Linked DNA regions of Homo sapiens: region 2 is linked to region 1. Evidence: fine-mapped expression QTL. A gene starts in region 1. The other region holds a variant in brackets. All regions are shown on one strand. Distances are from middle to middle.

Region 1 (2,917 bases):
AGGAGTTATAGAACAAAGATCATATGTCACAAAAATGTTTAATGAGTTCCAAATGCATTGATAAATATGATGTTGCTAATGACCAAACCACATGGGCCTCCATGGTTTCTTTCACAGTCATGGGCCTAGCTCTAGCTCAGACCCTGAAATGGACTCTTCGGCAATTAAAGGTGCTCTGCTTGCACCACAAATGAGAACCTTCACTCCTTTCCTTGGGTCAGAACTCAAAGACCTTTTTTTGTTGTTGTTGTTTTTGAGACAGGGTCTCACTCTTTTGCCTAGGATGGAGTGCAGTGGCGGAATCATGGTTCACTGCAGCCTTGACATCCCAGGCTCCTGTCATCTTCCCACTTCAGCCTCCCCAGTAGCTAGGACTACAGGTGCGTGCCACCACCCCCGGCTAATTTTTTAAATTTTTGGTAGAGACAGGGTTTCACCATGTTGCCTAGGCTGGTCTGGAACTCCTGGGCTCAAGTAATCCTCCTGCCCCGGCCTCCCAAAGTGCTGGGATTACAGGTGTGAGCCATCTCGCCTGGCCAGGGACCTATTTTCATGGCAGAGTCAATGCTTACCTACCTTCAGAGACTTTCTGTGGGGAAGGGAAGGTGGGGGACTCTGTTGTTAAAATAGAAACAGCTGTTTTTCTCATAACACACTCACTTGAAGAAATCAAAACAATGCATAAAAGCATGAGAGATTTAAAAAAGTAATACAAAATCCCACCCAGAAGGTAACTATTTCTAACATGCAGGTAAACATTCTTCCAGGCTGTTTTCAGGGATAAAAAGCATCATTAGCTCGCCTGAAAAGTCCCCGGTTAATTCTATTTTTTTCACTGCTACATGCCCTGGTGCCTAGAACAGTGCCTGGTACATGGTAGATGCTCCGTAATATTTGGTGAATGAATTACCATCTATGATACCCGGTTTCCTTTTCTGTTAAAGGAGCTAAGGCCTATTCCACAGGACAACTGAGTTAAATAAAAGAATGTATGCAAATACATAGTTCCTTGCTTGGCATATGGGGATATGCTCAATAAAATAAATTTTTAATATCTGTTAGCAGCCAAGGTTTTTATAACGTTACTGGATTAGTCCATCCCTGCCTCGGGCTGTTAAACATTAATACAGCCCAAAGCCGGGGCCTGCAAGATGCTGTCCGGAACCACCATTTCACCAAAGGGCGCGGCCAGGGCATGAAAGGGCCACTAGGCTGGGGCCCCGAAGGAGGTGGAAGACCTCACAAGGGGCATCAAGGGCAGGAGTGGGGAAGGCGAAGCGGGCTTGCAGTTCCTCCAGCAGGTTACCAGTTAGCCTGGCTTCTCGTGCAGGTCACCGCCGCCGGCTCGTTCCTCAGGTTTCCGCGATACAAAAAGGACGAGATGGTCTCGAAGTCTTAGCTCCGTCACCTAATCTGAGAATAACGGGCCCAGGAGACTTACGATCACTGATGTCCCCACAGTCGCCTCAGTTCCCGCCACGGAACGGCGGGCGAAAAGCAGGGCGGGAATACGCCGGTAGGAATACGCGGGCACGTAACGCGTCACTTCCGGTGCTGGGGCGCGCTGCTTGCGGAGGGAGTTTGCCCGTATACGGTTTTATTTAGGCAGGTGATGAGCCAGCCGGACTTTCAGGCAGAACTGGACTGGAACAGGCATGGCCTAGGAGGTGTCCCTGTCCCGGTGCATTGCTCCCACTTCAGACGTGAGCGCGACCCTCCCGGAAGGAGTAGAGGTCGCGCGGGCACGGCGCTGGGGCTGCTTACCTGGCAGGCTCAGCAATGAGGGCGGGGCGGCGGCGCGCGGGCCTCTGGAACCCTGCCGGTCCACCGAAGGTCCCGAGCCCGCTATCTTCGTAGGTGCGGGCCTCCGGAGGTGCAGGTCCCTGTCCTCCTTGTCCTGCTTCGTCGCAGAGCAGAACGCGTGTGCTTTAAGGGCAGAGACATCTGAAGATGCTTTGCCTTGCCCTCTTGAGGACACGTGGCTTTTACTTCTAATAGTGTCTGCGTGTTGTGGAGAGAGAAGACCATGCAGCTGTGGACATCTATTATAATTCCTGAGCCCCACTTAGAAATCTGGAAGTGAAGGCGTTCAATAAAAGTTAAAGGACTGATAATCATGTTTAGCCCCACCAAGCTTCATGCACAGTGGGCTAGGCTGGTGCCTGAGCCCACTGCTTTTATCTCTTCCAAGTACTTGGTTTAGCTCTGAAATGCTCCTTAATCCTATTGAAACCTGACCCTTCTCAAAGGCCACCTTCTCTACTGGTCTTTACTAATTACTAACCCATAAGGTTGTTCCGGGTCTTCTTCAAATGACTGTTTTGTTTGGCACAAACTCAGCATGATATCCATTGTTAACTTTGTACGTTTTTTTCATTTATCTTGCAACAAATGCTTACAGAATGTCCACGCACTGTGTTAGATGCCTGCAGATACAGCAGGGAAAACGCTCGAGATGCCCTCAAGTAGCTTTACAGACTAGGAGAGTGACAGACAATGTGATGTGTGGTTATGCAGAGGAAGTAGGGGGCTGTGAGAACTTACATCCCAGGCCTAACCCAATCAAGGGTTTAACCAAAGTAAGGATGCTTTATGCTACTTTGTAATTTCCACAGAGTCTGATACAATCTCTGGACAGTATAAAAAACACACAGGTTATCTATCTGGTCACCGGTTTACATTACCATAACTTATCAAACTGTATACTTAATGCTTGTATATTTTATTGTATGTAAATTATACCACAATACAGTTGATAAAACAAGATCTATGAAAATAGATGGTATCCATTTGCTACCTGAAGGAACAGCACAACCACAGAGAGGGGGATGTTATGATCTCATTTAACAGACAAGTTGGGCTGGGCACGGTGGCTCATGCCTGTAATCACAGCACTTTGGGAGGCCGAGGTGGGCGG
Region 2 (2,917 bases), 570 kb before region 1:
CCAACAATGAAAACATTCCACAGTTAGACTTCTCTTTCTAGACACTCACTGACAGTGACATTAGAATTAGGTGGCTTTTATGTATAGATTTCATATGCAAAACCCTTCATGGAGACTTAATCTGGAAACTTCATGGTGGGCTGGTTTTTGGCTATCTGGAAGACTTTGACGGGATTCTTGGCTCCTCTGCTAGTACTGATTGCTGCCTGTTTGTGGGACTGAGAGTCCCTCTCCTTCTCCCTAAGTTGAAACCCTCTTTCCTCCATTCTTTTGACTTTATTGCAAACACCCTACTCTGTGACTACTGGCAAAAGTGTCTTCTTTTTATTAATTCCTCTGTCCTTGCCAGGGCCACCTCATAGGTGTGAGATGTGGACTCCAGGGCCCCACACTTAAGAGGGCTCAGTGCTTAGTTTAATGCTTTGCTGTCCCATTTTTGAGGAAGGGGCCTCACATTTTTAATTTTGCACTGGGTCACACAGATCATACAGCCAGTCCTGCTCCTTGCTGTGGACGTGGAAACAGGGAGAATGCTCACACCATACAAGGTATGACTGGATGGTGTACCTGTTCTCCTCCCCTTTGGAACTCAGCAGGCATTTTCCCACAGAGACAATCCATAAAGGCAGATGATGCCAATGACAGCTCCATCCTCCTTAGCCTCAGTTCCTTCATTTCTAAAATGGGGACAGTAGCACTTACCCTTGCATGTTATTGTGAGCAATGAGTGGGATGATGTATAAAGTACTTATCAGAGTGTCTGGTATACATCAGTGCTTGCTCAATGAAATCTATGTGAGACAGCAGTTGCGGCAAACAGAGCTTGGACTCTGGAGTGAAGAGCTAGGTCAGAAATTAAATTAGCCCCACTGCCTAAAAAATACATGACTTTTGTTAGTTGACTTGGTTTCTTCCAGTGTCAGTTCCTTTATCTGTAAATGGGAATGCTAATATTTATCTTGAAAGGTTGTTTTGTGATTTAAATAATTTAATGTATTTAAAGACCCTAGTTCACCACTTGGCATCTAGGAGGAGCTAAAAAAATGAAAACAGTTCTTAGTCAGGTTCCCCTTTAACACTATTGCTACACCTAAAACAACCAATTTGGCCAGGAGTGGTGGCTCACACCTGTAATCCCAGCACTTTCGGAGGCCATGGCAGGCAAATCACTTGAGGTCAGGAGTTCAAGACCAGGCTTGCTGAC[A/G]TGGTGAAACCCCATCTCTACTAAAAATAGGAAGAAAAGTTAGCCAGGCGTGGTGGTGTGTGCCTTTAATCCCACCTACTCAGGAGGCTGTGTAGGAAAATCACCTGAACCTGAGAGGCAAAGGTTGCAGTGAGCCAAGATCACACCACTGCACTCCAGGCCAGGTGACAGAATGACTCTTTCTAAAAAAAAAAAAAAAAAAAAAAAGACCAAAAACATCCCCCAAAAAGAAAACAATCCATTTGCAAATGATGTTTGGGATATGACCATTAATAAGTTCTTACATATTATACGACTTCCTGTATACTATATCACCTATGAAATGTAACCACCTTGTATGTTAAAATAATTTTGTAAAGAATACTTGAGCACTATTTTTCCTTTTCTTTTGCTAGACGACGATTTCCTTGAAGGCAGGGGCCACATCTTATGTGCCCTTTATTCCAGATCACTTTCAAACACTTTAGAATCTCAGTTGAATCAAATTTCTCTTTTGTTCTTTATGCCAACAGTGAGACGATAATCTCCCTAACATTCCTCAATTAGCAATTAATGATTAGCCTATTGATAACTAGGAGGTAGACAGGGCCAAAAATAACCCCATCTCTGCCGTTAAAGGCCTTTTCTTTTTTGCCCATCATACATGGCTCGTATTCCTGCCTCCTCGGTTCTGGTTCTTGCTCCATTAATGAAACTATTCCATCAGAGAACATAACTTGGTTTTCTGGAACCCACTATCTTCCCTGGCAACAACCCATCTAGAGAGGCCATGGAGGAAGAATTTCCTGAAACCCCAACATTTGAGTCATAATTTGATGCCTCTTAGGATTCAAAGAGGCCTCAGACCTGTGACTTTTAAACATTTTGGGAGTATAGGTTCCTTTAAGAATCTTCTGATAGTTATGGACATTCTCTGCAGAAAAATACATTCAGTACCTTAGTACAATTTCAAGGTGTTCTCAAAACCCCTGAAGCCCTTGGATCCCAGGTTAAGAATTCTTGTTAGAATAGCCAAGAAAAGGGAATCAGCAACGTGAATGATTCCGGTTTCCTGGTAAGTGTTCCGGACCTGACTAGTCACTCTCCCTTGCTGAAAACAAAACAAAACAGAACAAAACACAGCAATGACAACTCCCAAGATTTAACCTCAAGATTATCCCTGAGAGTCCAAACCTGGGCAGTAATGGTAAAGGCTTCCGGCCAAGCAGTAACTACTCTTTGGAGAACCTCAGTTCAGCTGAGTAAAATAGGCCTTGTTTGATAATGCCGTTTACATTTCCAAATCCTGGGTATCAAGCTTTCTTCCTATGCCTTGCGGCCTTTCCTAAGTTTAGCCGCTGGTGTAATGGGGTAACCATGGCAACAACCACCTGCCTATTTAAAACCATCTCCAATGCTAAATAAGGAAGCCTGAAGAAAATGGCTGCTTGCCTGCCTCTCAGTGGACAAATTGGGCACTCCTGGGTATTTTAGACATGGGCGAATAGGCAGGGTAGAAGCAGTATGTATGCAAAGTTCTTCATAGGAAGCGTTCGGTGACCTTGTGAAATAGGTGCTACCTCAGCCCTTCTGTCTTCGTTTGTTAGGCGAGCACGCAGGTTTACGTGCAAATCCGTGGGCCTGTCACCATGTCATCCATGCTACCTTGACCTCAGTCAGGTGAAGAGTGAGCTGAGAACCTACCCTCAGAGAGAAGTATTGTTTATAGGATCT

Evidence for each region. PIP is the estimated chance that this variant, and not a neighbour inherited with it, causes the effect.
Region 2: its variant is fine-mapped to the expression of RFC4 in kidney cortex (GTEx, PIP 0.92).

Annotation. Positions count from the first base shown.
Region 1 is chr3:186,804,984-186,807,900 of GRCh38, forward strand. It overlaps RFC4 (replication factor C subunit 4), which reads right to left and starts at 1,499. Exons shown (of 11, transcript NM_002916.5): 1 at 1,307-1,499. RefSeq lists enhancers at 1,055-1,666, 1,667-2,278.
Region 2 is chr3:186,236,905-186,239,821 of GRCh38, forward strand. All of the region lies in intron 20 of DGKG (diacylglycerol kinase gamma), which reads right to left. Among named protein-coding and RNA genes, the nearest start is that of DGKG, 120 kb to the right of the region's middle. The variant A/G (reference allele first, on the strand shown) is at 1,205.